Linked DNA regions of Homo sapiens: all the other regions are linked to region 2. Evidence: fine-mapped expression QTL. A gene starts in region 2. Each other region holds a variant in brackets. All regions are shown on one strand. Distances are between the middles of the regions.

Evidence for each region. PIP is the estimated chance that this variant, and not a neighbour inherited with it, causes the effect.
Region 1: its variant is fine-mapped to the expression of MYO1D in whole blood (INTERVAL, PIP 0.97).
Region 3: its variant is fine-mapped to the expression of MYO1D in blood mononuclear cells (TOPMed, PIP 0.98).

Annotation. Positions count from the first base shown.
Region 1 is chr17:32,418,659-32,426,844 of GRCh38, reverse strand. No RefSeq gene overlaps it. Among named protein-coding and RNA genes, the nearest start is that of PSMD11, 22 kb to the left of the region's middle. The variant A/G (reference allele first, on the strand shown) is at 4,407.
Region 2 is chr17:32,873,271-32,881,456 of GRCh38, reverse strand. It overlaps MYO1D (myosin ID), which reads left to right and starts at 4,333. Exons shown (of 22, transcript NM_015194.3): 1 at 4,333-4,679. The coding sequence starts at 4,585. It overlaps MYO1D-DT (MYO1D divergent transcript), which reads right to left and starts at 4,602. Exons shown (of 4, transcript NR_184086.1): 1 at 4,564-4,602; 2 at 3,496-3,613; 3 at 2,822-3,157. RefSeq lists silencers at 4,614-4,801, 4,008-4,997.
Region 3 is chr17:32,812,405-32,820,590 of GRCh38, reverse strand. The region is part of intron 1 of MYO1D (myosin ID); the gene reads left to right. Among named protein-coding and RNA genes, the nearest start is that of MYO1D-DT, 60 kb to the left of the region's middle. The variant A/G (reference allele first, on the strand shown) is at 3,152.

The DNA of each region.
Region 1 (8,186 bases), 450 kb after region 2:
AGGAGAATCGCTTGAACCTGGGAGGCAGAGGTTGCGGTGAGTCGAGATCGTGCCATTGCACACCAGCCTGGGCAACAGAGAGATATTCTGTCTCAAAAAGTATATGTAAATAAAAATAAAAAATCAAAAAATAGCCACCACTTCCACAACATTCCTAGTACTAGATTTTTCCTCCTCTTAAGCCCACCAACATCCTCTATCTCTGAGTATTTGTTGTGGTTTCTTAATTTTTATTTATTTTTTATGTTATTTTTATTTATTCATTTATTTATTTTTTTGGAGATGGAGTCTTGCTCCATTGCTCAGGCTGGAGTGCAGTGGCGCGATCTCAGCTCACTGCAACTTCTGCCTCCCGGGTTCAAGCGATTCTCCTGCCTCAGCCTCCTGAGTAGCTGGGACTACAGGTGCACAATTTTTTATTTTTTTTTTAGATGAAGTCTCGCTCTATCACCCAGGCTGGAGTGCAAGTGGCATGATCTCAGCTCACTGCATCCTCTGCCTCCCGGGTTCAAGGGATTCTCCTGCCTCAGCTTCACGAGTAGCTGGGATTATAGGCATGTGCCACTACGCCTGGCTAATTTTCATATTTTTTGTAGAGATGGATTTTCGCCATGTTGGCCAGGTGGTTTTGAACTCCTGACCTCAGGTTATCTGCCCGCCCTGGCCTCCCAAAGTTCTGGAATTACAGGCATGAGCCGTCATGCCGGGCCTTCTAAGTATTTAACATAATCAGAGATCATATTCACCATAAGATACAAATGGGGTTATTTCTCACCAGCAGGGATATAATAATAAAAGAGGAACTTGCTGCCCCCAAATGAAATGGTATAAATATATCTTTGATATAAATGATATAAATATATCTTAATATTTTTAAGTTGTGGATCTTTCGTTCATCTTTGTTACCAGCTCTTGGGGCAAGGCTTGACACCTATTAGCATCTGTTGAGTAGGTAGATAGATAGTACAAGTTTACAACATCTGCCTTTTCTTATCTAATTTACCAGAGAACTGAATAGAAAGAAGTAAATACTATGGATGTTTTGTTAGAGGTGTGGCAATATTCAGATAGGAAGTAAAGTATCACAATTAGAGCTTGCCCATAAAACTCTATAGAACCAGCCCAATTCTAGTTGGAGTAGGGAGAGTCTTAGGATAATTTCTCACTTTTCTACCAACTTTTATCACATTTATTTATTTATTTATTTATTTATTTATTTATTTATTTTTTGAGATGGAGTTTTGCTCTTGTTGCCCAGGCTGGAGTGCAGTGGCGCGATCTTTGCTCACTGCAACCTCCACCTCCCAGGTTCAAGCGATTCTCCTGCCTCAGCCTCCTGAGCAGCTGGGATTACAGGCGCGTACCACCACGCTCAGCTAATTTTTGTATTTTTAGTAGAGACAGGTTTTCATCATGTTGGCCAGGCTGGTCTCGAACTCCTGATCTCATGATCTGCCCACCTCAGCCTCCCAAACCAAAGTGCTGGGATTATAGGAATAAGCCACTGCATCCCGCCTATCACCTTTTTTACTTCTTCTTCTTCTTCTTCTTCTTCTTTTTTTTTTTTTTTTTTTTTTTTAGATGTGGATCTCACTATGTTGCCCAGGCTGGTCTCAAACTCCTAGCCTCAAGTGATTCTCCTGCCTCAGCCTCCCAAAGTGCTGGATTACAGGCATAAGCCACTGCGTCCAGTTACTTTTCCTACTTCTTGACTAAATTTTGGTAATATACACCTTCCTAAAATATTTATTTCATTATGAGTTTCAGAATTATTAGCACAAGATTCTCTTGAGGCTGGGCATGGTGGCTCACACCTGTAATCCCAGCACTTTAGGAGGCCTAAGTGGGAGCATCTCTTGAGCCCAGGAGTTCAAGACCAGCCTGGGAAACACAGCAAAACCTTATATTTTTTATTTTATTTTATTTTATTTTATTATTTTATTTTATTTTATGACAGAGTCTCACTCGTCACCCAGGCTGTAGTGCAGTGGCATGATCTCGGCTCACTGCAATCCCCACCTCCCAAGCTCAAGCGATTCTCCTGTCTCAGCCTCCTGAGTAGCTGGGACTACAGGTGTGTGCCATCACACCCAGCTAATTCTGTATTTTTAGTAGAGACAGGGTTTTACCACATTGGCCAGGCTAGTGTCAAACTCCCAACCTCGGGTGATCCACCCGCCTCGGCCTCCCAAAGTGCTGGGATTACAGGCGTGAGCTGCCACACCCAGCCAGACCTCATCTCTATAAAAAAAAAATTTAATAATAATTAAAAAATTAAATTTAAAAGATTATCTTGAATGTTTTAAACCTCCATGAAATCTGATCACATTCATTTGTCTCATTACTAATGCAATATATTTAATGCTTCTTTGTATTTAATTTGCTTCTTTATATTTATCTTAATAGAGATTTTTCTATTTCAATGCTATTTTAAAAGACAAGTTCTTAGATTTGTCATTAATTTGATTGTTTTCTGGGTTTTATTCACTAATTTCTGCTTTAATCTTTACTGTTGTTTTTTTTTTTCCAAGACAGGGTCCTGGTCTGTCACACAAGCTGGAATGCAGTGTGTGGTGGTGCGTTCTTGGCTCACTGCAACTTCCAACTCCCAGGCTCAAGCGATCCTCCCACCTCAGCCTCCCAAGTAGCTGTGACTGCAGGTATGCACCATCACACTCAGCTAATTTTTTTGATTTATTTTTTGTTATAGAGGCTGTTTCTCCCAGTGTTGCCCAAGCTGGCCTCAAAGTCCTGAGCTCAAGCAATCCTCTCACCTCAGCCTCCCAAAGTGGAAGCACGAGCCACCACACCCAGCTGATCTTCACTTCTTTCTCTTTTTTTTTTTCCTGGGTTCACGCCATTATCCTGCCTCAGCCTCCCGAGTAGCTGGGACTACAGGCACCCGCCACCATGCCTGGCTAATTTTTTGTATTTTTTAATAGAGATGGGGTTTCACCATTGTTAGCCAGGATGGTCTCGATCTCCTGACCTCGTGATCCACCTGCCTTGGCCTCCCAAAGTGCTGGGATTACAGGTGTGAGCCACCGCGCCCAGCCTTTACTTATTTTTATTTTCCTTTCATTTATTTTGTTGTTCATTTTTTAGTTTCTCAAAAATGGTTAGTCCATTTAATTTTATTCTTTCTTAATCATAAAAGCTTCTGACTGTTTTGCACATCAGATAAGCAAAGATTAAAAAGAATGATCTGGCTGAGGGCGGTGGCTCAAGTCTGTAATCCCAACACTTTGGGAGGCCGAGGCAGGTGGATCACCTGAGGTCAGGAGTTCGAAACCAGCCTGACCAATATGGTGAAACCCCATCTCTATTAAAAATACAAAAATTAGCTGGGCTTTGTGGCATGCGCCTGTAGTCCCAGCTACTCAGGAGGCTGAGACAGGAGAATTGCTTGAACCCAGGCGGTGGAGGTTTTAGTGAGCCGAGATTGTGCCATTGCACTCCAGCCTGGGCAACAGAGCAAGACTCTGTCTCAGAAAATAATGATCTGCCTGGATACAGTAGGTCTTCTAGAGTGAGTGCTGGCCCTAACAGTGGGAACCTGTCTCATCTTGGAATTTCAGAGGACCTAACCTCCCAGACTGCTCCTTCTCTGTGCATTCTGTGCCTACCACTTGACATATACCACCCTTGTAGAAAGAAACCTAAGCCAGCTTACCCATCCTGGAGTGAGCCTATACTAGAGAAACAGATTACCTACAAGACAGTATAGATGGTCCATACTACATGCCTATATTCTTAAATAGGAATGGACAGCCAAGAACTCCCAGACATTTGATGAAACAGCAAAGCAAACAGAGCAGAACCAAAGTAAACAAACAGAATTTAATGGAAAGGAACTATTTTGAAATTCCAAATTTCAGAAAGTATACTCAGAAAGTTTTTAGGAATATATTTAATCAGTTTAACAAAATATAGTCTGCTATAGAAAAGGAACAAGCAGAGAACAAGAAAGAGATCTTGGAAATAAAAAGTATGGTTGCTGAAAAATATCTATAAATATAATAAAAATTAAACTATTGTTTTCAGTGGCCGGGTGCAGCGGCTCATGCCTGCAGTCTCAGCACTTTAGGAGGCCAAGGCAAGCAGATCGCTTGAGCCCAGCAGTCCTAGACCAACCTAGGCAACATGGCGAAAACCTGTCTCTACAAAAAATACAAAAATTAGCTGGGAATGGTGGCTTGCGCCTGTAGTCCCAGCTACTCAGGAGAGTGAGGTGGGAGGATCACTTGAGCCCAGGAGGTCAAGGCTGCAGTGAGCCGTGACTGTGCCACTACACTACAGCCTCTGTACAGGATCTACAGAGTGAGACCCTGTCTCAAAAAAATAAATAAATAAAAATAAATAAAACTCTGTTTTCAGCTTAGAATTTGATCCTCTACCAGTCAGGC[A/G]TGAGGGAAAATAAAGACCTTTCCAAACCTTCAATAACTAACCTCGTTCTGGAAGATAGCATAACTCAAGAAATGAAAGGAAATTACCACAAACGATTTGTTTTATACAACAGTCTAATAATAGAATCGATTATCTTTCTTTTTTTTTTTTTGAGATGGAGTCTCGCTCTGTCACCCAGGCTGGAGTGCAATGGCATGATCTCAGCTCACTGCAACATCTGCCTCCAGGGTTCAAGTTATTCTCCTGCCTCAGCCTCCCGAGTAGCTGGGATTACAGGTGCCCACTGCCACGCCCAGCTAATTTTTGTCTTTTTAGTAGAGATGGAGTTTCACCAGGTTTGCCAGGCTGGTCTCGAACTCCTGACCTCAGGTGATCTACCCACCTCGGCCTCCCAAAGTGCTGGGATTACAGGCATGAGCCACTGCGCCTGGCCATGAATTCTCTTTTTAAAAAAGGCCCAAAGACAATACGATAAGACAACTTGAGATGAAGAGGAAGACTGAAGAGACAAGGAAACAGACAGGATCAAAACAGCATCATTAAAAAACTAATAAATAAGACAACTTAAGGAAACACATGAACATATCACAAAGGTTAAAAATAAAGATGATGAGGGCTGGGCACGGTGGCTCATGCCTGTAATCCCAGCACTTTGGGAGGCCAAGGTGGACGGATCACGAGGTCAGGAGATTGAGGCCATCCTGGCTAATATGGTGAAACCCCCATCTCTACTAAAAATACAATAAATTAGCCGGGCGTGGTGGCATGCGCCTGTAGTCCCAGCTACTCGGGGAGGCTGAGGCAGGAGAATCACTTGAACCCAGGAGGCGGAGGTTGCAGTGAGCCGAGATCGCACCACTGCACTCCAGCCTGGTAACAGAGCAAGACTCCGTCCCAAAAAAAAAAAAAAGAAAGAAAAAGATAAAAGATGATGAAAGCTGAGAAAGGAGACGATGAAAACAAAGGAATAAGAGAGAAGACAATAGGTATGAAGAACATGGCATCTGTTATAAAGTTAACTAATGTCCCTGAAGTAAAGGACTTTATGAATAAAACAGGAAAATGAGAAAATTATTCAAAGAAATAATCTTTCAAATTTCTCTTTAATAAATAAGGAAATTAGTTACAGATGGAAATAACACACCATGTTCCAAGAAAAAAAAAAAAACTGACACAGCATGGTAGCTACTGATCTCTATCCCAGTTAAGTCACTAAACATTAAAGTTAAAGAAAGAATTCCTTGAACACAACCAACCAGACAATAAAGCAAGTTGCCTAAAAGGGGTGAAGCAGAGTTGGGAATTGGACTTATCTCAGACCTCTCTGAGGCAAGGTTCAATGCCAGAAAAACATGAAACATGCCACAAATTTCAGAGACAAAATGTGGCCCAAGAAAATGATACCCAGTCAAGATGTTGTTCAAATATAAGAAAAAGAGATAGTCTCAACATGAAAAAAATCCAAGGAATTTAAGACAAAGAGCTTTTCTAAAAAAAAAAAAAAAAAAAGAAAGAAACAAAATCTAATTTAATAATTAATCAATACAAATAAATCAGTAATGGGAAAGTACTTCTGGTGGTGAGCAGTGATTCCACCTGAATATAGAACTAAGACTACACAGGACCTAATGTAAATGCTATAAACCTCAACAGATAATATAACTACCAAAAGCAATGGGATGAGGAGAGAAGATAGGAAGCTGAGTGTTAACTTCAATTTCTTCATCTTTCCATAGTAAGATGTTAACAAAAGTGTCCAATAATAAAACATGTAGCTAAAACATATAATGATTCTACTACTTAGTGATTTTCATATCTTTTTTCTTAACTTTGAAGAGATAGACTGAGAAATAATAGCTCTTAGATGAAAAATATTTACTAATGTTTAACCATTTCTTCCATTTTACTTTAATTTCCTTTTTTTTTTTTTTAGTTGTCAATTTCCAAGAAAAAACATTAAAGGGAAAGAAGTAGTTGGAATTAGGTGGGGCAAAGTGGCTGTCACCTGTAATCCCAGCATTTGGGGAGGCCAAGAGTTCAAGACCAACCTGAGCAACATAGCAAGATTCCATTTCTACAAAAAATAAAAAATTTTTAAAAAAAATTTTAAAAAAAGGAAAATTTTTAAAAAAATTAGCCAGGCATGGTGGCTATGCCTGTAGTCCCAACTACTTGAGAGGTCAAGGTGGGACGATTACTTGAGCCCAGGAGTTCAAGGCTGCAATGAATTATCGTGCCACTGCACTCCAGCCTTGGCAACAGAGCAAGACTCTGTCTCAAAAAAAAAAAAAAAAAAAAGTAGTAGGAATTATAAAATAAACACCTACATTCCCATCATTCAGAATTAACAATTATAAATGTCATTTTTTTTTTTTTTTTGAGAGAGAGTCTTGCTCTGTCACCCAGGCTGGAGTGCAGTGGCATGATCTCGGCTCACTGCAACCTCCACCTCCCTGGTTCCAGCGATTCCCCTACCTCAGCCTCCCAAGTAGCTGGGACTAGAGGCGCATGCCAGATGGTGTTTCACCGTGTTGGCCAGGTTGGTCTCAAATTCCTGACCTCAAGTGATCCGCCTGCCTCAGCCTCCCAAAGTGCTGAGATTTCAGGCATGAGCCATTATGCTCAGCCAAATTTGATTTTTTTAAAAAACAAAATATTATAAAGAAAGCTAATATTCCCTTTAAACACCATTCCCACTCCCATCCCTCCAATGCAGAGCAAAACCTTTTCCATCTAGCTTTTTTGGTATTTAGAGATATATAGACAGATAGATATTTATTATCAGCAATGATATATAATATTGCTATGTGTGAATAATGCTTTTTTCTTTACACAATGGTACCATACCAAATATATTGTACTGCATCTTGCTTTTTTTCATTCTGTATTGTTGAGTGAACTGCATATAGAGTTAATTCATCCCTATTAACTGTGTATATACCACTGTATGATTAGTCCGCATTTATTTATCCATTCTATTAACGGACACTGAGATTATTACTCTTTGATTTTTTGCACTTCCAAACAATGCTACCATGATCATTCTTGTATGCATCTAAAAGTTTCTCAGTATACCCAGAAATATAAGCATTTAATTATAAAAACACATTTGTTTTCTTTTTTATTTTTTGAGACAGAGTCTCGCTCTGTCACCCAGGTTGGAGTGCAGTGGTGCGATCTCAGCTCACTGCAACCTCTGCCTCCTGGGTTCAAGCGATTCTCCTGCCTCAGCCTCCTGAGTAGCTGGGATTTCAGGCACATGCCACCACACCTGGCTAATTTTTGTGTTTTTAGTAGAGACAATATTTCACCATGTTGGCCAGGCTGGTTTCAAACTCCTGACCTCAAGTGATCTGCCTGCCTCGGCCTCCCAAAGTGCTGGGATTACAAGCGTAAGCCACTGCACCCAGGCATTCATTTTCATTTTATTAGATACTGCCAAATTGCTCTTCCAAATGACTCTATATCAATATACCCTATCCCTATCTCAAGAGTTGTGAGAGCTTATCATTTTCTCCACATCTTTGCCCGTACTTGACATTTTGGGCAATCTAAAGGGCAATAGTTTCAGTTAACAAAGTAGCTAAAAAAAAAAAAAAAGTGCAATAGTATCTTGTTGTTTTATGTTTCCTTAATACTAATAGTGTGAGACTATTTCTATGATTGCTAATTTATTTTAGGTAGATTCTTCCTTTTATCAAAATAAAATGCTCCCTTAATTTTTTTTCACATCCTATTTTGTCTGGTATTCAATTGCTACTCCCAATGTCCTTTGGTTA
Region 2 (8,186 bases):
CAGGGCAGCCCAGAAACATTCTGGGAAAGTTGAATGGGAATAAACATTTGTGGTGGAAAATTCAGGGTTGATTTTCGTGGATCATCAAGAGTAGACCCTCTGCAGTGGCTGGTAACTACAGAAGGGTTTTTGGAACAGTAGCTTTTGTTCAGTGTGAACACACAGTGTGCAGGCCTGGTCCCAGGGGAGAAATAAACACAGCCCTGAGATCTGCTTCCGGGGCAGGAGATGAGACTGAGGTTAATGTTGTACAATGACTAATTTGCAATGCAGAAAACTACCAAGGGGGGTGGATTTACAGTCTCACATTTTATGACCCATAGGTTCACAGACCATTCCATATTCATTTATCAAGCAACAGTTTATTAAGCACTTCATCTCTTAGCACTATGCTAGGAGGTGCCAGAATTACATTTACATCAAAAACCAGAAAAGACAGCTTCCAGCCCTCATGGCCCTTACAAACGAGTGAGAGAGACAGACAGTAGGCTCAAGGGCATTTAGTACTGTAATGGGGGCAGCACTTCCAGGATGCTGCAGGAGGCACAGAGGAGGAACAGCCAATTCTGACTCAGGAGATTATGGAAGCCTTCTTGGAGGAAGTGATGTTGAGACTGAGAGCGGAGGGATGAGCGGAAGTTAGCTAGGTCATAGGAGTGAGGGGTGGGGTGGCGGGGAGAACTTCAGGCAGAGAACAGGATGCACCTTCTCAGGGGCATATGGGTATATTTGACATCTAATTATTTTTGTTTTTAGAATTACCTGTTCAGTGTTTATAATCTCCTAGCACATCTATGCCAAATAGAGCTAAGAGGTACCCTGGACCAGGGTTTTCAAAAATATCTGCTGGTTCTTCAGTTCTGGAAGGTTTGCAAAATTCTGATGTGACTTTGATTTCTAAGTGTTATTTAATATTTTTAAATTAAAAATTTTTATTTAGCACAGTTTTAGATTACTATTTAATTTTTAAGTTTAAATTTCAGGCCGAGTGTGGTGGCTCACACCTCTAATCCCAGCACTTTGGGAGGCTGAGGTGGGCAGATCATGAGGTCAGGAGCTTGAGACCAGCCTGACCAACATGGTGAAACCCCGTTTCTACTAAAAATACAAAAATTAGCTGGGCATGGTGGCATGCACCTGTAGTCCCAGCTACTCAGGAGGCTGAGGCAGGAGACTCGCTTGAACCCGGGAGGCGGAGGTTGCAGTGAGCCGAGATCGTGTCACTGCACTTCAGCCTGGGCGGCAGAGCAAGACTCCGTCTCAAAATAAATGAATAAATTTCAAACTAATTGCAAAGTTACAGAAAAGTTGTGAGGATAGTACAAAAGAAAATCCCCTCAAAAGTCCCATATATTTTTAATGACTTTACCACTTGTTAGTATTTTGCATCATTTGCTTTAATCATTTATATGTCTACCAATATATATGCACGCCCTCCTTCCACCTCCTCATCTTATTATTTTTATTATTCTTGCCAAACAGTTCGAGACATCATTTTACTCCTAAATACTTTAGCAGATACCTGCTAGAAACAAGGACATTATCTTGCAGAATCCCAGTAAAATGATCAAGTTCAGAAAAACTAGCATTGATACTATCCTACTATCTAACATCGCGTCTATATTTGAATTTCACCAATTATCCCAACAATGTCCTTTACATTTTTCTGGTTGGAGATCCAGTCCAGAATCACCCATTGCCTTTAATAGTGATGTGCCTCAGCCTCTTTGTCTTTCACATCATTGATATTTTTGAAGAATACAGGTCAATTGTTTTGTAGGATGCCCCTTAATGTGAGTTTGTTTGATGCTTCTTCATGATTAGATTCCATTTACGTATTTTTAGCAGGTAAATGATATGTGTCTTTTTCAGGAGACCATATCAGGAGGCTCATGGTGTCTGTGTGTCTCATGATTGGGGATATAAACTTTTATTTGTTTTATTTTTTGTATATTTTAAACTGTAACAAAAACATGCATCTCCAAATGTGTTTCTATTCAAATTTTATCACAAAGAACATTCATAATGAGCTAATCTGCTCTAGGTTACCTTGACTGAATGCAGACCAGAGTATTCAGTCTCTCCTGCCGGCTGTGCATATACCTGAACTTTGCTCAAGTGTGTCATTGATTAATAATGTTGTAACTGCACATTGGCCTAGAAATGCTGAATGTAAAGTTGTATGGGTAACAAATTACTGCTTAGTTATACAAACAAGAATTTGCTTGACACAGTACAATGAAAACAACATACAAAAGTAAACTGGAATCCTGAGGCTAATAGTGAGCCCCATTGAGCAGATTTGGGTTCATCATGAGAGCATCAATGCCTAATTTTATACTAATTTGGACTTATACAAGAAATTAATAAAATACCCTTTGCATATGTTGTATATGTGTTTTATATGTTGGGTTCCTATATAAGATGTTGATTAAAATGAGGATCTCTTACTTTGGCCATTTGGAAACCACATTGTATCCCACCATAGCTCCTAACCACTGTACAATTTCTGCAACTCTCTCATCATCTGCAAGCCGTGATGTTTCTTTTCCTGGTACCTGGGATTTTGCCCTAATTTTTAACACCTACAGAGCTCAGGGAACACACATATATAATTTACCAAAAGGTTTTGGGGTGTGGTCCCTGGATGCTCCAAAGTGCATACAGTTTGAGATTTCTTTCTTTCCTTCTTGAAGTTCAGTTCTGCTTATGTTAAAACATGCCAATACAAACATTAGGAATACAACCATACCCTATGCAATAACCTACTTAGCCACTGACCGACACCTCCACAAATGACCCAACCATAGGACAGTCCTACCTTATTCCAGAGCTTTTATTCCACAAATGAGGACACTGATATCGAGACAGGTGGATCTCCTCCTTCTGAAGGACAGCTGCTAACGGTAGTCAGATGCAACCCAGCTCTGCTGGTGCCAGGGATTGGGGTGGTTTTCTGATGGCAGAGGCAGTCCCTCAGGAGGTGACAAAGCTCCTTTCCTTTCTCTTAGCAAGTGTGGGTGGCTGGCAGCTGAAGCAGGCCTTGGGCAAGGTCCTTCAGTCTGGTTTACTCATCTCAAACTCAGCCAGAGTTGAAGCCCAGCCAGGTCCTTGGAGGCCTCTAGATTTCCTCGTAGATTTTGTAATAGAAGATGTCCTAACAGAAACACAGGACTGAATAAATGTAGATACCTTAGAAAGTCATTTATTTAAAAAAAATAGCTGGGCATGGTGTCATACACCTGTAGTCCCAGCTGCTCAGGAGGCTGAGGCTGGAGGATTGCTTGAGCCCAGGAGTTTGAGGTTGCAGTGAGCTGTGATTGCACCACTGCACTCCAGCCTGGGTGACAGAGGGAGAATTTGTCTCCAGAAAAAGAAAAAAAAAAAAAAAAGAAAGAAAGTCATTTGTAGTATATTTTCTTTGGGAAAATACATTGAGTTCAAAAAGAATTTTCCAAGCTCAACCAATGTATCAATAAATTGGAGACTACTTACAACTCACTTCATTCCACTGAACCAGTATGGATTTCATATTTATATATGCAAAGTAGTACAATAGTTATTTGGTGGATGCAAAAAGAATGGTCCCATGCTCAAGACATCCGCAATAATCCTGGAGAGATGATACAAAGATATATTAAAAACTTAATAATCATATAAGGTAATGTCTGATGACATGCTCGGATGAGTGGAAGAGAAAATGGGCCACTGAAGAATGGAGGTAGTCAGACGTGGTTGAACGCTGCGGCTCCTAAGTCAAATGACCTGCGTGAAACCGCAGCTGCTCCACTTCCTAGTCGTATGGCAAGTTTCTTAAAAGTTCTCTAAGGCGCTGAGAACAGCTCTGGGCATTTTTGGTGCCCCAAAAATGTTAGCCATTATTATTACCTCTCAGTCTGTGCTTGAACCACCACTTCAAGAATGGGCAGGGTGTGAGTAGAGAGGCGGGAGTGGGTTTTGGAGCAGGGTGACAGAATCATAATGAATTGTCCTCGCGAAAAGCTCCACGAACTACTTTTCTAACTTTGTTGGCAGCTACCAAGTGTGGGCGGCAGGCGGCCATCCTCTTGGCCGCCTGAGATCCCAGCGCCTGTCCCCAGGGGGCGCTGCCACCCAGCTGCCGCCGCCCGGCCCAGCGCGCGTCCCCGCCGCCCACCCGCGCGTGCGCGCCGCCCAGGTGAAGAGGCGGCGGCCAGGGCCGCGGCTGGGGCGGGCTCCTCAGTGGGCCGGGAGGGGCGGAGCCGGGAGGCCCGGGCGGGGCGGAGCCGGGACGAGCCCCAGGCTGGAGGCGGGACCAGCCGCTGCCGTCTCCGTCTCGGTGTCCCGGCCCCTACAGCGCCCGGCAGCCGCGGCGGGAGGAGCGGAAACTGTCGGGTGCGTCCCGTTCGGAGCCGCGCCGGCCGAGAAGGCGCCGAGGAGCAGCGAGGCGGCCTCTGTCCGGCCCGGACCCGCCGAGCGGCGTGCGCGCCCCCTCCCCGTAGCCTCGCGGCGCGGCCTCGCCCCGGCCCCTCCCGAGCTCATCGCGGGCCCACGGAGCGGCCCCGGAGGCCCGAGCGCGCCCACCTGAGCCCCCGCGCTGGCGCCATGGCGGAGCAGGAGAGCCTGGAATTCGGCAAGGCAGACTTCGTGCTGATGGACACCGTCTCCATGCCCGAGTTCATGGCCAACCTCAGGCTCAGGTGAGGGCGGAGCGGCCGCGCGCAGGGGCGCGAGGCTGCGCTTTCCCGAGAGGGGGCGCCTCGGGGCGCGGCCGGATCCGGGGTGTCGGGAGCGCCCAAGCTCCAGGGATGGAGGCGCGGCCGGGCTGCGGTGTCCGGGGGTCTGCCAAGCTCCGCGGCTGCGCTTTCCCGAGAGCGGACGCCCCTGGGGTGCGGCCGCTTTGGGGTGCGGGGGGCGTGTCGAGCTCAAGGGCCGCGCTTCCCTGAGAGGGGAGCCCTGGGCGCTGTCCGGGGTTTAGGTGCAGAGGGTGTGCCGCGCGGGAGGGCGCGCTTCCCCGCGCCAGGTGAGGGATGTGGGCGGGCCGGTGACCTCATGGAAACTGAAGGGAAATAACTTGAACGAGAGTTGCGGTGGCCCCGAAGGCCCTAGGAGGACTGGAGGATTATTTTGGAGAGAGGCTGGCGTCTCATCCCGGCTTTACACTTGCTTCTTTTCTTTCTTTCTTCGCCCTTCTTTTTTTTTTCCTCCTGGCGTAGTTCCATCCTGTCATTCAGGATGCTATGGAGTGATCCCTGAGCTGTCTGTTCCGGGACACTGGCTATTTTTTTAGTTACTCTCTAAACGTAATTAGACACGTTTCCAGACATCGAAGAGACTGCTGTACTTGCCAGTGCCAAGATAAACTGTCTGAATTTGACAAGACGTTCATGGTTTTGGTTTTTTTCAAGGAGTTAGTGGATGGAGCTCTTGTGTTATTAACATCCTTGAGAACGTAGTCACAACTCAACGCCCCAAAATGGGCTTCCAAGATGTGGATTTGTTTTAGAAAGCCCTTTACATGCGATTATTTCACCCTTGATAGAGTAATATGTAAACAGTTTTAAAGTAGTTTGACTTAAACATTAAAGTAAGTGGAATTTCAAAATAGCTGAGTTTTGGTGTGCGTGTGTATGTTTCCCTGCAAGCTTTGGCTGCATTTCTTCTAAGGTTTATAGCTAAACATCATTCCTTAAGCTTATAAAGTGAAAGTCATAATCTAGGCTTGGGTGCTTAACCCTAATTTCATTATTAACTACCCCTGTCAATCCAGTTGACAGGGGTCAATCAGGTTGATTACATACCAGCATAATGATAGGATGTTACATTTCTGATCAAGGTTTGGATGTACAACTTTTATAGAAATCACCCCAAATATTAATCAAAATGATATACCTCTACATCAGCTATAACCAATACCCATTATCATAGTGATTAAGAGTCAGACTGTTGAGATTCAAATTCTAGTTCCACTGCATTCTTGCTGTGATCTTTGAGCAAGTTACTTAACCTCTCTGTGCCTCAGTCTTCCCGTCTGTAGGATTGGGGTTGTCCTGAGGGTTAAATGAATTATTAATAATATGTGTATACATACTTCAAAGATTAGTGCCTGGCAAATCCATATTAGTAAAACTGTTTTAAGTTTTCCCAAGTGCACATAAAATAGATAAAGGGGTAAGTTACATAGCAATTTCATAGATTAAGGTTGTTTTAAATTAAGAGATTCTACTCCTCTCCCCCACAGGAAATAAGTTGTGTGCTTTGAGAAATGCCTTTATAATTTTGTCACTCTCAGTTATAATCATTTCAGTTTTTCAGACATTGGTACATTTATTATGTACATACTGTATACAAGACCATGTAGTAACAGTTGAATATGAAGCCTTTCATTTTAACCTCCATCTTTCACCTCCAGCAAATACATGGGCTTAGCCAGAGCTTTTGCAGAATTTTCAGAATTTGAAATTGAAGGCATAGAGTCTAACAGGGCTACATTAGTTTGTAGGACTACTCCTCTGTAATAGAATTAAAACTCTTGTGGTTTTTAAAAAGTAAATTGAGGGAAGGCACTTAGAATTTCTGCTTTTTTTTTTAAAGCATTAAGTCTCTTAAGTGTGAAGTTTGAATCTCAAAATAGATTACTAAGGTGAGCCTAACAACTCCTATGTGTACAGAAGAGAATGCTGCAATTTATTTATATTTATATTTATATTTTTTAGAGATGGGCCCTTAGAGTTGCTATGTTGAGCAGACTGTTCTTGAATTCCTGGCCTCAAGCAATCCTCCCATCTTGGCCTCCCAAAGCACTAGGATTATAGGTGTGAGCCACCATGCCCGGCCGAATGCTGCAATTTAATTCTACTGTGTGCAAGGTACTCTAGGAGATAAGCTAGGAGTATCCAAAGAACTACAAGATGTGCTGCTTACCTCTCGAAGAGGTGACATCTCAATGAAGACCTGGAGAAAGGTGGAATTTTCTATTGATTTAAAGAATAGTTCAAGAAAACAACATCAGGAGGCTGAGACAGAAGGATTGCTTGAGCCCAGGAGTTCAAAGCTGCCGTGAGCTATGATCACACCACTGTACTCCAGCCTGTGTAATAGAGCACGACCCTGTCTCTTAGAAGAAAAAGAAGAAAGAAAACAGAGAGAGACAGAGACACAAAGAGAGAGAGAGAGACAGAGACAGATAAAGAGGAAGGAAGGGAAGGAAGGAGAGAAAAGAAAAAAAGAAAGGAAAAGAAAGAGAAGATAAAAGCCTTATAAAGCTTAGGTGATTATTTGTCAAGTAATTATAGAAATTGTTCTGGAAGTTCAGAAGAGAGAGAGATACCTTAGGTTGACTCCAAAACACCTTATAGAGGAAGAGAGGAGTTGAGCTGAGTTCCAAAGGATGGGTAGGATTTGTAAAGGTGGACTCGTGGCTGGAGAGCATTCCAGGTGGATTAAGCAGCATGAGCAGGGGTTGGCGGCATGAAAGCTGACTCTGGGTGACAGTGAATAAGTTAAGTTGTTTGGAAGGGAAGGGGTTGGTGTTGTGGAGAGGTGGGAGGAATCACCAGCTCTCCATATGGCCATTGGCTAAGGCCCAGGTTTTTAGGTCTACCTTTATACCCAATCTCCACATCATTCAAAATCCTGGGTGTACAGATGTATATGTATTTGTATGTATCTCATCTGTGTGTCCTTGATGACTCTGAGAACTGGCTGTGGTTCTCATTGTACAGATCAGTGATTGTTCATGACTTACTTATACATTAAAATAGTTGGTTCCCTGTAGCCATAAACACAGTGCCAGCAAAGGGTAGCACCCTTACCCTCCTCTGAAACTATAAATTCTGACCCAGACAGAAAACAGTCCTCTCTTTCCTTTCACTTTGCAGAAGGTGACCAGAAACCCACCACTGCGTAATCCAGGTGCTGTTCTGTGATGTTGAAGTGTTTTTGTCTCCTGGAATATTGGTGGTTGGGCACATATTTCTGGTTGTATATAGCTGAAATTGAGCGTGTTTGGTCCATTGGTATATATGGATGTGTGAGTGAAATTCCCATGTGTGCTTGTACCTCATGACTCCTGCCCTCCCAAGCTGTAGTTCCTGCTCTTACTCCCCAGTCTGGAATGTCCTGTCCTCCCTTCCCACCTGGCTCTTCTGCAAGGCCTGCTTCCTTCCTTTAAGTCATGTAATAGTCAAGCACTCAAGGCTGCAGGT
Region 3 (8,186 bases), 61 kb after region 2:
TTTTTCCTTGAGTTCAACTTTTTAGATTCCATATTGTAAGTGAAATCATGTAGTATTTGTCTTTCTGTGTCTGGCTTATTTCACTTAGCATAATATCCTCCAGGTTCATTAATCATTCATGTCACAAATGGCAGGATTTGCTTTTTAAAACTGAATAGTATTCCATTTTCTGTGTATGTGTGTATATCACATTTTCTTTATCCATCCATTTGTCAACAGACACTTTGATTCTTTCGTATCTTGAGACTAATGTGAATATGCTGCAGTGAACATGGGGTGAAGATCTGTCTTCAAGATGGTGATTTTCTTTCCTTTGAACATATACCCAGAAGTGGGATTGCTGGGTCATATGGTAGCTCTATTTTTAATTTTTTGAGGAACCTACATACTGTTTTCCATAATGGCTGTACCAGTTTACATTCCCACCAACAGTGTGCAAGAGTTCCCATTTCTGTGCATCCTTGTTCTCACTTTTTAAAAGAGAAACTACCCTTCTATGGCCTTACTGAACAGTGACCATGTTTTGAACCACTTGATTCCTGTCTCCCGTCTCTCCCTCTTGCCACATCTGGAATGAGACATAATCCAAAGATGACCAACCTGTGGGCTTACCAACAACCTGTGGCTTGATTTGCAAAGTTTAACTCAGTCAGTTTTAAGTACTATGCATGTTGTCTAGATTGAAATTCCGACTTAGCCACTTGCTAGTTGTGTAACCTTAAGCAGGTTACCCAAAGTTCACTATGCCTCAGTTTCCTTCTCTGTAATATTAGATCCTATATAATGTGGTTTTGAGAATTAAAAATAGTTAAGTCCTTAGAACAGTATCTGGCTCATACTCAAAGCTTCATAAATGGTAGCCATTATTATTATTCTGGTAGGAATTTGGAATTAAGAAACTGAATAACTAAAAGAGTTACTAGTAGAAACTAAAGGTAGAGTGTCATGAGATAGAACAGTGGTTTTTATTCCTTTTTGGGGTCATTGCTTTCCTGAAGCATCTGATGAAAGTATGGACATTCCCTGCAGAAAAGTTCATAAGTATATATAAACAATAAAATCAAGGTTGAAAGCACCTGATGCAGAGAATGATGGAGAGGAGGCCACAGCAAGTCAGAGCCATGTGCAAGTCAGCCTTGAGAAGGAGCAGAAACTGCCACCAAAGCAGAGGGAACTGTTGAGTAAACGGAGGGGAATGGACTGAATGAAAAGGCAGAAGCAGAAGCTGGGAGATAGCCCTTCAGTTCCGGTCCAGTGATTTCTACCCCAGAATTCCTGTGAGATCTCTGTTTATCTCCTCACAGCCAACTTCCCTGCTTATAACCAAGCTAGCATAGCCTCCCTTCTTGCAATCACACTATCCAGACCGAAAAAAAAAAAAAAACTTGAAACCAACTTCTACATGATGAAGCATTATTGCTGTGTCATTTCAGATTTCTTTCAGCCAACATTATGATGTTTTCCTGTGGTGTGATTATATCAACAGCAAATGCTTTCAGAGTAAAGTGAATAGCCATCTGTAGTTACTTTTCAGCGGCTGCTAACTTCCTTTTTTGTAGATAGAACACTTTCCAGGCATATCCTAGTTTTTAACATTCCACTTTAAGGAAAAAGCAAGGAAGAAGTAACGTCAACCTATCTCTCTAGTAGAATTCTCTTTTATTTCTATTAATTTTTTAAAGTTTTTAAGCAGAAAATGAGGCAGAACTTCATAAGATTTTGTAGGTGAAAAGGATTTTAAGGAATTTTCCAGGCCCATTACATCCAAAGAAAACTGGACCCTGGTATCCTATTGCATACTTAGTCTAATTTAGTCCTCACAGTAACCTTATGTGATATAATACCCTTCCTTACAGATGAGGAAACAGGCTTAGAGAGATCTGACCCCTTGCCCAAGATCGCTATAGCAAGTGGTAGAACCAGGATTTGATCTCAGGGTTTTCTGACTACAAAGCCTATGCTGCAATGCTTCACTGGACTCTAAAACTTAGGCTAGAGAAGAGTGAGGCTTTCACTTTATTTCCCCCATTGGTCTCTCTCTCAGCAGCTCTTCTAGAAAAGAAGAATGGGAACTTGCAAGCCCCATTTTTTTGATCCTTGAGCCGAATGGGTCTTGAATGTGTCCATCGAGCATCTGCCTCCGTTGCAGTGTCATCTCAAGTGGTGGTACCTTCCCACTGGGCTGGAGCTACTATTGGATACTTAGCCAACCCTCCTTCCATAATGAGGCCTTCACATGGGACCACAGCTCAGCATTGCTGGGAAGAATGGTCAGAGACTGCAGGGGCAGCAGCGATCCACAGTTTGAACAGAAGCATCACTAAGACTTGTTTACAGACTATTTGCAGGATAGAGGTGTGGTTAAAAGCACTGGCTCTAGAAGTAGACTGCTTAGGTGAATCTCAACTCTTTCACAATACTTGTAGGGCAAGAACCTACTACCTCTTTTTTTTTTTTTTTTTTTTGAGACGGAGTCTCGCTCTGTCGCCCAGGCTGGAGTGCAGTGGCGGGATCTCGGCTCACTGCAAGCTCCGCCTCCCGGGTTCACGCCATTCTCCTGCCTCAGCCTCCCAAGTAGCTGGGACTACAGGCGCCCGCCACTACGCCCGGCTAATTTTTTGTATTTTTAGTAGAGACGGGGTTTCACCGTTTTAGCCGGGATGGTCTCGATCTCCTGACCTCGTGATCCGCCCGCCTCGGCCTCCCAAAGTGCTGGGATTACAGGCGTGAGCCACCGCGCCCGGCCCCTACTACCTCTTAAAGTCTCCATTTCTTTATCTGGAAAGTAAGATATTTCTTTAAAAGTGCATACCATATAGGGTTGTTGTGAAGATTAAATGTGATAATGCACGTAAACCACTTAGCTCAGTGCCTGGCATGGTAACGCTCAGTGAGTGTTGGCTATTACTATACTACTTGAAAACAGTTTAGAGAAAAAGCAAAGAAAGAGGAACATCAACCTCTACTGGATCCTTTTATTTTGGTTAATTTTGAGTTTTTGAACTGAAAACAAGTCATAAATGTATAGGCTTTTATAGCTGGGAAGGATTACTTTCCTTGAAAATGGTAACTCCTGTGTTTAGCTGACAAAACCAGTTTTTAAACTGCAGTCATTTTATGAGTGTAAAATATTACCTTCAAAAGGCATAGA[A/G]TGTATATGCATTTTATTACTGTAATTAAGAGAGGTACAAATATGTTCTTGTTCCAAGTTTTTTGTTGCTAAACCATTAAATAATCTGGTGGTTGTTTTCCTGTTACTCAGCAACATAAAGAAGCTTCAGTCTTCAGTCTTCAGTCTTCATATCTTTTTAGAAATGCATAAAATTTGTAGATTGCTAATGTATTCTTGTAACATTACTGTTAGCCAGGCATGGTGGCTCATGCCTATAATCCTAACACTTTGAGAGGCCGAGGTGGGAGAATCACTTGAGGCCAGGAGTTCAAGACCAACCTGGGCAACATATCATGACCCTGTATCTACAAAAAAATTTAAAAATCACTGTGAAGTAGCTAGCAGATAATTACTATTTTTATTTTATTTATAGCAATACATCTAGTACCTCATTAAATAGAAATTTGAGGTACAAGTAGTTACTTGCCTAAGTTACATAATTTTTCCTCACCAAAAACTTTTTATTCTGTGGCATTTCTTACCGCTTGTCATCTTTTTCTTTAGTTAAAAACACTAATTTTTTTATTATTTAAAAAAATTCAAAAAGGGACTGTATTATATTGGAAGAAAGACTAAATCCTGTGTGTGTGATGAAAATGGATTAAGGTTTTGATGTTGAATTTTAAACTCATACTTATGCTACATCCAGGAATTTTTCATAATATCTGCAGTTGAGGTGAGTGCATCCATTTATTAGATTTAGACCACTTAATATAAAAACAATGAAGTAACTCAGGATTTACTAATTGTAAATACATAGTATAAATATGTTTAGAGAAAAATTATATGCAAATGTTTTTTCCCTTGCCTAGAATTTGAAGATATTGTTAAAACATGGCAATCTATTGCAAACTTGACTGTTTAGAATCAAACAGAATTATTTAAAATTCAGTTTTAATAGTACTACAGCAATCAGGTGGAGAGAAACCAAAATAATTATTAAAATGATTTCAAAGTTTAAGACGAAAAGTAAATAACATTGGACTAAGTTTCCAACCTTTCCCTTGGTCTAGGACATTAACCTTCTCTCTTTAGCTGCCTAACCCTTATGTATCCTTCTGGGCCCTGCGTTTGTCTCAGTGAAGCCTTTCCTAACCTGGTCAGGTCTCATGTTTAATACAGTGTTAGCACTGTGACCTCTTCCTATATCTCTTGTTTGTCTGGATTGTAATAATATGATTGTTGATAATTTTTTAAAACTGTGTTCCTCACTTGACTCTAAGTTTGATCAGGGCAGGAACCAAATGTGCCCTTTTCACTCCCAGACGCTTAATGCAGTGTTAAACATCACACTAGACCCACAGACATTCTCAATAAATATTTATTGACTGATAGATGAATGGATTCCTTGTTTAGGATATTGTAGCTGAGAGATATTGAGAAGAATCAACTGGCTACTTCCCACTGGTTTTCAGATCAGTTAGTTGCTACTAGGTTACCATGGATAAAGGATTTGTTTATAAGCCCAGAAGTTTAATTTTATCCTCTTGATTCTCAGTTATTGATACTAGTAAACAAACTTACAAGAAACTAATTTGTATGAGAGAATACAACCCCGAAATTTACATAGGAAAATGTACCTAGAAACTGGGGCTTGTGGTCTATACAGGTGTGGCAGAGACGGTAATCACTTACCTTGTCCTTCTCAACATTTCCTACCTAGCTTGCAGTTAGGTGGGGACCACAGGACTAACCTGTGGTATTGGCCAATGAACTCTGCACAGAGTGATGTGTCACTTTGAGGCCAAGGGAATTCAGAGCCAGCATGCTTTCTTGTTTGTTTCTTTTGCCAAAGCGTGTGCTCTTTAGGCCTCCTGTTCTCATTGGCAAATCTACGAGAGGGAAGAGGGCTGCCTGACCAGGATTGGACTTAAGCATAATAACTATGCTTTTAAAAAAGTTAAGAGAATAAGAACTAACATGAAAATTTAAAATATTTAAGTCATTATCATTGATATTTTTCCATACTTTAGAGATAGTTCTCACAATTCTTGAGCCACAAGTTTGGAATGATTTCTTCTACCACAATATTTTTGGTGTCTTCCTGGTAAATAAGGAAAATCCAGGTTGAAATGGGCAACTTCTATAAGTCAAGAGCTGGAAAATCTTTTTTCCTACAGTTTATGTATTTTAGCAGTAGTTTATGTAGCAAAATGGATCTCTTATGAGATAATTTTTTCATTAAGTATTTTTTCAACAGAATTATATTTGAGCCTTGAGCGCCTATTTTCTTCAAGATATTGTTAAGCTCTGCAAAGGTGAGTAAGTCATATATCTTGTCTTCAGTATTTTACCATCCATAACAGACTGCTAATTATTCAGCAAAATGTGTTTCCTGTTCTTTGGAGGCACATCCTCCCTTGCAGTTACGTGTCATGTGACAGAGTACTCATTGGTGGAATTTCTGAGGTCTAGACACTTCTAGGTCTAACTCATAAAAGCCTCCCGCAAGTGATTCTCCATTCTCTGCCACTTTTGTTGGCTGGCTGTTGATGCGCAGCGTAACTTGAAGTCATGTGTTGAAGATGGAAGCGTTTTTGTCGGACATGTCACTGAACAGTTGCATGGAGCAAAGGCCTACTCCCTCCCCACAGAAACGTTTGTATTGGACTAATGTATGGGTAATAAATCAACTTCTTGTGTAAAGCCACTGAAAGTTTGGAGTTTATCTGTAATTGCAATTAGCATTATTCTAGGCAACTTCTAATAGATGATACAGCAATTCCAGTGTGAATATTTAAATTTTCAACAATGATTAATTTGTCTTATTTGTAATGCATCGTGCTTAGAAGAGACATGTTTTCATTTAAAACAGTCTGCTAATTCTTTCTCTTGCTTTCATTACTCCAAATTATATGTCTCTTCTTTTAACAGCCAACAAATGGCTACTCTGATTAAGGAGGCCCTTCATTATCCTTCTTCCTCTCACACCGTTTTATAAGGTCATTTATATGGTTTCTGTGCTTACAAATTCATTGAGCATTTACTCTTATTTATAAGTGCAGTAGGAAAAAAAGAAGGGATAAATTTAGAATGTTAACACAGAAGTGTTTTTTGTTTTTGTTTTTGTTTTCTTGAGACGGAGTCTTGCTCTGTCGCCAGGCTGGAGTGCAGTTGTGGGATCTCAGCTCACTGCAACCTCCGCCTCCCGGGTTCAGGTGATTCTCCTGCCTCAGCCTTCCGAGTAGCTGGGACTACAGGTGCACACCACCACACCCAGCTATTTTTTGTAATTTTAGTGGAGACAGGGTTTTACCATGTTGACCAGGATGGTCTCGATCTCTTGACCTCATGATCTGCCCACCTCGGCCTCCCAGAGTGCTGGGATTACAGACATGAGCCACCACTCCTGGCAAGAAGTGTTTTTTAGATGGCTGACCTGAACTCTGGCAGGTCACTTTTCTAAAAAGTGTTGCTGCCTCGAGAAAGTTACCAACATGTGAAAGCTAGTTTGTATTAAACCTTCCACCTAATGCCCATGGCAGAAATCTAGTTATTCTTGATTCATGTCTGTCCTCACCATCTCCACTCCCATCTGATCAATCACCAGATGAGGTCAATTGAGTCTCCTAAATATCTTTTGAGTGTGACTACCACCATGCTCTAGTGTAGGTTTCTATCAAGCATCCCATGGACGCAGCTGTCTCTTAACTGGTCTCCATAGCTCCAGTCTTAAGACTTCCATGCTGTAGCCAGAACTTCTTAACATGACTTGGAAGGCCCTTGCATCATCAGCAATTAATTCTCCTCTCTTTTCTCTAGTTTTCCTTTCCTTTACTGTTACTGTCCTTTCTGTGCCTTGTGCTCCAGGCTTACTGAACTTCTTTCCATCCTTTAAACATGCTTTTTTCTTTCTGAAGCCTCTCAGCCTCTGTTCCTGCTGAGATCTCCATGTGGCACACTACTCTTTCCCACTCCTCCTCCTCCACCCCATCGCCTCAATAATTCCTACCCATTCTTTAGTTTTCAACTTAGATGTTACTTCTGGGATCACCTTCTCGGTCCTTGAGGTCTGGGTTAACTGCCTTTCATTTGTACTGTAATATATCTCCCTGCATTTCCTCTAATAGCTCCTTTGTTACATTTTCCTTTTACTTGTCTGCATCCCCTACTGGGCTGTCTGGAGGAACACAGACCATAGTTATGTTGATCACCATTGTATCTAAGCCCTTGGCGTATTGCTTAGCACAAAAAATATTTGTTAGATGAATGAGTAATAGGTTGTGTAAGAACCTAGTCTTTTTTCAGACTTGTCTGTAGAGTGATATTTGAGGATATAATAAAGAAGAGACTGAAGTCAGTGCCAGAGTATCTTTTCACATATTGGGAAATCATCAGTGAAGACCGTTTATAGGAGAAATGATTGAATGCTGGATAGTTGTTGAAGATTGAACTAACAAGATTTGCCAATGGATTGGATGATGGGTGTGGATGACTCCATGTGTATAAGTTATATTTGCTTGGCAAAATTGTTCATGAAAAGTTAATGTCGCCATTATGGTTAAGGTGATTGTGAGAATTAAATGGCCTATACATATAAAGTCTCTACCTAGTCTAGTGCTTGGCATTTTGTAGGTACTCAATAAATATTATTTTCCTATTTGTAAGTGACTTAGTGCTTTGTTAAGGCAAGGAAGCTGAATGTGTTATAACATGCTGCTGTTTCTAAGCAAAACTGTGCAGCAGGTGAAGTTGGTGCCCAGTGTCTGCTGGAACTTCTGCAGTCCTCTCCGTTGTCCTACCCAGAACCCCACAGGCTATATCTCAAGGTCAGTACTCCTTCCCTTGACCTGGTACTCTACTTGTCTCTCCAGTTCCCTCACTTGGAAGGCTTATTACTCTCATGTTTCATCCTGACTTCCTCTAACTTAAGTGTAGGTAACACAACATAAAGAGTTAAGAGCATTTACTCTGCTGTCAGACTGCTGGGTTTGAACTGTGGCTCTATCACCCCTGACCTTTGTAACCTTTTGCAAGTTACTAGACCTCTCTTGTCCTCATTTTTTACCATATG